2 linked regions of the Homo sapiens genome follow. The protein of the gene in region 1 interacts with the protein of each later gene in a biochemical or structural test. Each region holds a gene or a part of one and is shown on either strand. Other genes may lie near its edges. The genes, in order: WNK4 and SGK1.

Region 1 (3,800 bases):
TTTTTTTTAAGGAGGTCATGATGAGCTTGAGTGAAGAAGGGACAGCCAAGACAAGACCCTCCATAGCCATGGATATGGGTCAGGCAGGGCTGGAGAGATGTGGATGGAGGAGTAGTCAGTACAGAGTTGAGAGTGAAGGGAGATGAGCCGGCAAAGCCAGAGACACAGAGGGTTGCAGAGTGTGTCTCAGCGCATACCACCAGTTCTGGAGTGGGAAGCGGGAGGGTAGGTCATCGAAGGACACAGAGACAAAGCCAGAGACGTAGGAGGATGTTAGTCAAAACTGAGTGAGGAGAGAGTTTCAAGGAGGTGGCATAGGATGAATCCTCAGGCAAGACCACACTGGCTTTTGTTAGGAGATCTTTGTGGGAGACCAGTTTCAGTGGAGTGGGGGTGGTGGATGCCAGCCCATGGGGTGAAGGAGGGAAAGGAATGGGAGAAACACCAGGCATCAGGAGCCCTCTCTAAAGCATCTCCTCCATCATGTCATTCACCTTGTGTCCAGGACAAAGACACAATATCACCTGGCACACAAGGCTCATCACCTTCCGTCAAACCACTTGACTCTTTCAGAGTCTTCCATCCAGCCACACTGGTTTCAAAATGGGCCTCTGAAAAGGCTGGGTGCCTTCCTGCCTCTGCCTCCACCTCCTTAAGGGTCTCTCACTCGTAGAGCCTTCTGTATTGGGCTTTCAAGTCCCCTCTGATCCTGCACAGCCAAAGTGACCCCACCCCATGCACCCAGAGTCCTTTGCCCTCTTTTCTCTCCTTACCCAGTCCACCCTCCACTCCTCTGCAGCAGAATTCTCCTGAGACTTGGATCTGATCTCTTGATATTCACCCGAAATTATTTAGTGGCTACTTGTGGTTGTAGAGTAAGGTCCAAATTCCAAAGCCTTTAAAATTCACAGCACATTCAGCTACACTTGAGTCCTCACTATTTTAAGAATAGGCTGTGCCGGGCATGGTGGCTCACGCCTGTAATCCCAGCACTTTGGGAGGCCGAGGCAGGCAGATGACCTGAGGTCGGGAGTTCAAGACCAGCCTGACCAACATGGAGAAACCCCGTCTCTACTAAAAAATACAAAATTAGCTGGGCGTGGTGGCGCATGCCTGTAATCCCAGCTACTTGGGAGGCTGAGGCAGGAGAATCACTTGAACCCAGGAGGTGGAGGTTGCGGTGAGCCACGGTCATACCATTGCACTCCAGCCTGGGCAACAAGAGCGAAACTCTGTCTCAAAAAAAAAAAAAGAAGAAAGAAAGAAAGATTGAATAGGCCGGGCGCAGTGGCTCACACTTGTAATCCCAGCACTTTTGGGAGGCTGAGGCAGGTAGATCACTTGAGGTCAGGAGTTCGAGACCAGCCTGGCCAACATGAAGCCCTGTCTCTACTAAAAATATAAAAATTAGCTGGGCATGGTGCCAGGCAGTCCCAGCTACTCAAGAGGCTGATGCAGGAGAATCTCTTGAACCCAGAAGGTGAGGTTGCAGTGAGCCAAGATTGTGCCACTGCACTCCAGCCTGGGTGATAGAGCAAGGCTCAGTCTCAAAAAAAAAAAAAAATAATAATGTACCATGCCTTTCATGCTTCAAAGCTACTACACTGTTCTCTCTGCCTAGACTGCTCTTCTCTTCCTGATGAACAGCCTGGAATAGAGGAAGGGGTCGCTTTCATGTAATACCTAAGTTCAAACTTCAGCTCTGTTATTTACTAATCCAATGAACTTAGGCAAGTTTCTTAACTCTGTAAACTTCAGTTGCATGTAAGTAAAATGCAGATGATAGTATTTGTTTTGCAAAGATGTTCTGATACGACACAGTGTAATGTAGAAGTGTCCACACATGGTAGGTCCTCAATAGAGATTGCTTTTCTCATCTGTCAATGTTCAGCTCCAAAGACTTACTCTGTGAAACTGCTCCAGCTTCCCCCTATCCCCAGGGTGGTATTCTGTCTTTGGAATAGCATTTTAAAAAATTGTGATTAAAAAACCATAAATATAAAATTTACCACCGTAACCATTTTTAAGTGTACAGTTCAGCAATATTAAGTATATTCACATTGCTGTGAAACAGATCTCCAGGGGTTTTCTTACCTTGCAAATCTGAAACTCTGTACCCATTAAACAACTCTGCCTCTCCACACCCCCATCCCCCCAACCCTGGAACAACATTTCTATCTATATCTCACTTGTAAGTGCCTTACGTATTACGGGCTGCCTTGCAGTAAGTTTAATTACGTATTTATGTGTCTCCTCCACTAAGTTTTGGGCTTCGTTAAGCCTAGGACCTTGTTTCATGCTTCCTTGTATTCCCACAGTACCCAGCACAATGCCAGCACATAGTAGGTGCTCAATAAGTATTCATGGATTTGAATGTGACATTTGCCATTTATTGCCTTATTCTGACTTAACCGTGTGGGATGGGTGTATGTGGGCCTGTGTGTTATACTTTATAAACACTATGGGGCAGAAATTGTGTCCAAAACATGGGAGGCAGCAGTGAAGATAACTCAGGCTCTGGCTTTAGGTAGATGTGGGTTTAAATCCTGTGACCTTAGGCAGACGGAACTTAACCTCTTTGAGCATTGGTTATCTTAATTCTACCATAGCAATATTAATGTGGGCCCCAGAAAGTTACTGGTGGTGTTAAATGTGATAATATACGCAAAGCAGCTGGTATATATACGCATCCTATGAATGTTAGCACCTTTCCTTCTAGGCTGTATTTCTCCTTACACCACACAGTGCCTGGAACACAATAGGTATTTACTTGTTTTAGGTTGGTGGTTGGCAGGAGCAGTAGTGTGAAGGGTGGATTTTTTATTTTTATTTTTTTGAGACGGAGTCTCGCTCAGTCGTCCAGGCTGGAGTGCGGTGGTGTGATCTTGGCTCCACCGTTTCCCAGGTTCAAGTGATTCTCCCGTCTTAGCCTCCCAAGTAGCTGGGATTACAGGTGCCCGCCATCATGCCCAGCTAATTTTTGTATTTTAGTAGAGATAGGGTATCACCATGTTGGCCAGGCTGGTCTTAAACTCCTGACTTCAGGTGATCCGCCCGCCTCGGCCTCCCAAAGTGCTAGGATTACAGGCGTGAGCCACCGCGCCCAGCCTGATGTTTTAAGATCAGAAGCAGGGGGAGAGGGATGAGTGAGATAACAAGCTCTCCCTCCCCATCCTGTTGACCCTCGCAAGGTATATAACGAGTTCATTCTGCCTTCGGAGCGAGATGGATTTCTCAGACGGATTCGGGAGATTATCCAGCGAGTGGAGACCCTGTTGAAGAGAGACACTGGCCCCATGGAGGCTGCTGAAGACACCCTAAGCCCCCAGGTCAGACCCCTTGGTGGACACTTCCAGGGGAAATGGACTCTCTGCTCCAGGGTTTATTACTCTCTGCCCTCAGCGGTCCCCTTGGATTTAACTCCTCTTCATCTCTGGGACCCTAAAACAGTGGCGCTTTTTTTTTTTTTTGAGATGGAGTCTCACTCTGTCGCCCAGGCTGGAGTGCAGTGGCACGATCTCGGCTCACTGCAAGCTCCGCCTCCCGGGTTCACGCCATTCTCCTGTCCCAGCCTCCCGAGTAGCTGGGACTACAGGCGCTCGCCACCACACCCGGCTAATTTTTTTTGTATTTTTAGTAGAGACAGGGTTTCACCGTGTTAGCCAGGCTGGTCTCGATCTCCTGACCTCGTGATCCGCCCTCCTCGGCCTCCCAAAGTGCTGGGATTACAGGTGTGAGCCACCGTGCCTGGCCTAAAACAGTGGCTCTTAGCCCATTTGAGAATATGATGAAAGCCATGG
Region 2 (3,822 bases), on another chromosome or scaffold:
TTGAGGGTTTGTTGTTGTTGTGTTGTTGTTGTGGTTGGAGACAGTCTTGCTCTGTCACCCAGGCTGGAGTGCAGCGGGGCTATCTCAGCTCACTGCAACCTCCGCTTCCCAGGTTCAAGCGATTCTCCCAAGCAGCTGAGATTATAGGCGTGTACCACCAGGCCTGGCTAATTTTGGTATTTTTAGTAGAGATGGGGTTTCATCATGTTGGCAGGCTGGTCCAGGAGGATCTTTTAACACCAAGACCAGCCTGGGCAACAGAGTGAAACCCCCCTATCTCTAAAAAGAAAAAAATTCTAACCCCACTGGAAGCAGGAGGAAAAAGAAAAGAAAAAAATAATGTGAAAAAAAAATGCGGAGACAGACTCAGCAAGATGAAATGACCAGCCATGTAATGCATACTCTAGGAAAGAGACTGAACAGCATTGACCAATTCGAATTGTGTTGAGTTTGAAAGATAGACAGGTTGTGAGACCGAGTTCTCCTTTCATGAGCTCCCATCCCACCAGATTTCCCACCAAATCCCCAATAAACATCAAAGGGAGTCAAACACATTTGTTTTTTCTTTCCTTTTGCACATTGCAGGTACGAAGGTGGATCAAGAGCCCAATGGTCAGTGTGGACAAGCATCAGAGTCCCAGCCTGAAGTACACCGGCTCCTCCATGGTGCACATCCCTCCAGGGGAGCCAGACTTCGAGTCTTCCTTGTGTCAAACATGCCTGGGTGAACATGCTTTCCAAAGAGGGGTTCTCCCTCAGGAGAACGAGTCATGTTCATGGGAAACTCAATCTGGGTGTGAAGTAAGTTCATGTTCGCTCTGGATCTATTCTCCTGGAAAAATTCTGGGCCTTTGTTTTTCTTGTATTTCTGCCAGAGTATACCCAAAAAATAATTTTTTAATGCATATTTATAAAGCTTCTGAGGAAGACCTAGAATTGTGGTCTTTGTTAGCTCATTATGTTATTTTTTTAAAGTAGGCTTTATATTTTAGAGCAGCTTTAAGTTCACAGCAACATTGAGCAGAAGGTACAGAGATTACCCATATACGCTTGTCCCCATGCACGTATAACCTACTTTGCCATCAACATTCCCTAGCAGAGTTTTATGTTAGAGTTCACTCTTGGTGTTATACATTCTATGGGTTTGGACTAATGTATAATAACATGCATCCACCATTACAGTATCATACAGTTAAGTTTCACTGCCCTAAAAATCCTCTGCCCTCCACTATTCATCCCCTCCTTACCCTGACCCCTAGCAACCACTGATCTTTTTACTGTCTCCATAGATTTGCCTTTTCCAGAATGTCATCTAGCTGAATCATGCAGTATGTTGTATTAATGTTTTACGTGGGTCCAAGACTGATACAGCAATGTGTTGGTAAACTGGCAATTCCTCAGAAGTGGTTTGATCACACAGGAGATCAAGTCTTAGATGATACAACGATTGTAATAGTCATCTACATGTTCGTAGCTTCCATTGAAATATTTAGTTCAACACGATTTGATCCATTTACAGAGCACTATGTATACTTTTCATTATTTTTCTCAAGCTCATATATACTCACATTTTTACTAAGACTTATTTTCCCTGCTACTCCAAGAGTTGTTTTTTAAAAATTTTGTTAATCCAAGAAAACCAGATAACTGATTCATCTTGCAGTTTCTAAGATTTCAAAAATTTAAGATTATATTTTTAACTTATAACTTAATTAGGCCCATATTTATTTTGATTTTTAAAACCATTATATAAAATGCTTATATTATTTTTACCATCATACTGACATAAAAATACAATATTTAGAAGACAGAACATGTTATTACAAAGTACAGTTAATTGTAAGTGATCTTCCAAGTCAGTGCATCATAGAATGATAAACGTTAATAACCGCTCACCTTTTTTATTTTTAGCAAGGTAACCATTTTCCAGAGATAAAATAATCATTTAGCTGCTAAAAGACTGAAGACATTAAATCTGAGTTCCTTTTCACTCTGAGTTATCACGCAATGTCGCTGAATCTGTTTCATAATTTGTCTACTTTCTTTCTTTCTTTTTTTTTTTTTTTTGAGTTTCACTCTTGTTGCCCAGACTGGAGTGCAATGGCACGATCTCGGCTCACTGCAACCTCCGCTTCCTGAGTTCAAGTAATTCTTCTGCCTCAGTCTCCCGAGTAGCTGGGATTACAGGCACCCAACACCACGCCTGGCTAATTTTTGTATTTTTAATAGAAACAGGGTTTCTCTATGTTGGTCAGGCTGGTGTCAAACTCCCAACCTCAGGTAATCCACCTGCGTCGGCTTTCCAAATTGCTGGGATTACAGGCATGAGCCACTACGCCGGCCCTTTTTTTGGGGGGGGTGGGGGTCGGGGACAGGGAGACAGGGGGACAGAGTCTTGCTCTGTAACCCTGACTTGAGTGCAGTAGTGCAATCATAACTCACTGTTACCTCAAACTCCTAGGTTCAAGTGATCCTCCCACCTCAACCCTCCCAAGTAAATAAGACCACAGGCATACGCCAACAAACCTGGCTAATTAAAAAAAAAAAATTTTTTTTGTAGAAACAGGGTGTTGTCATACTGACCAGGCTGGTCTTGAACTCCTGGCTTCAAGTGATCCTCCCAAAATGCTGGGATTATAGGTATGAGGCACAATGCCCAGCCTACTTGTCTACTTTCTACGGTTATTGGAAAAATCAAATGAGATTGATATGAAATGTTTCATAATCTATAGAATGCCATGCAAATATAAATCATTATTGCTCATGTTTGCTGATTTACATATTAGCTAAGCCTGTGACTCTGTAACACTATATTAGACTTCCATAACTGGGTTAGCACTTTGCTGATCCATGAACATTTGTCATGGTGCATTTGCTTTTTAGCCAGATGTTGGTTCAACTCTAGGTTTGTCATGAAAAACAATAAAGACGCTAAATGCAAGAGCATCTATTTATCGCTCCTGATGCAAGGGATAGAGTCAACTTTTTATCTAAACGGCCAGATAGTAAATATTTTAGCCTTTGCCTAAAATACAGTCTCTAACTTCTATTTAGCTCTGCCCTTCTAGGGAAAGCAGCCATAGATAATATGTAAATGAATGGACACAGCTCTCCCAGGTTGGAGTGCAGTGACGAGATCTCAGCTCACTGCAACCTCCACCTCCCAGGTTCAAGCAATTCTCCTGCCTCAGCCTCCTGAGTAGCCGGGATTACAGGCATCTGACACCACACCCGGGTAATTTTTTTTTTTTTTTTTAGTAGAGATGGGGTTTCACCATGTTGGCCAGGCTGGTCTTGAACTCCGGACCTCAAGTGATCTGCCTGCCTCAGCCTCCCAAAATGCTGGTATTACAGGCCTGAGCCACTGCGCCCAGCCTGAGTTTGCCAATTTCTTAGACTCTAAAGAACTATTTATGACTTAGAAGCAGAGAGAGGGTTCTACATATCCTATACAGAGCACACATGCCTAGTGCTAAATGTTTACTTGAGGGCCTACTCTATGTCCCATTTGATAGGAGCTGGGTTTAAATCAATGCAACAGTGAAATTCCACACAAAAGGAAACAATAAACAAAGCTGAAAGGAATTTAAAGCAACATTGTGATTTACCCTTTTCCTTTATCTTAGATAGCAGGTAAATCATTCTCCAATTTGCAATCGATTACCTGGTTCCCAGACTTTGCTGGCTTTTTCCTAAGGTTATCACAAATCAAAATGACACATACTTTATTTTATTACTTTTTTTTTGAGACAAGGTTTTGCTCTACTGCCCAGGCTAGAGTGTAGTGGTGCAATCATGGCTCACTGCAGCCTCGACCTCCAG

What was found.
Region 2: of the proteins of WNK4 (region 1) and SGK1, one has a biochemical effect on the other in vitro, tested with the Homo sapiens proteins (one study listed by BioGRID).

What each region holds. Positions count from the first base shown.
Region 1 is NC_000017.11:42,790,401-42,794,200, forward strand, and holds part of WNK4 (serine/threonine-protein kinase WNK4), read left to right. Parts: intron 1-3,191; coding exon 3,192-3,329; intron 3,330-3,800. UniProt on the Homo sapiens protein: Serine/threonine-protein kinase component of the WNK4-SPAK/OSR1 kinase cascade, which acts as a key regulator of ion transport in the distal nephron and blood pressure.
Region 2 is NC_000006.12:134,258,912-134,262,733, reverse strand, and holds part of SGK1 (serine/threonine-protein kinase Sgk1), read left to right. Parts: intron 1-585; coding exon 586-801; intron 802-3,822. UniProt on the Homo sapiens protein: Serine/threonine-protein kinase which is involved in the regulation of a wide variety of ion channels, membrane transporters, cellular enzymes, transcription factors, neuronal excitability, cell growth, proliferation, survival, migration and apoptosis.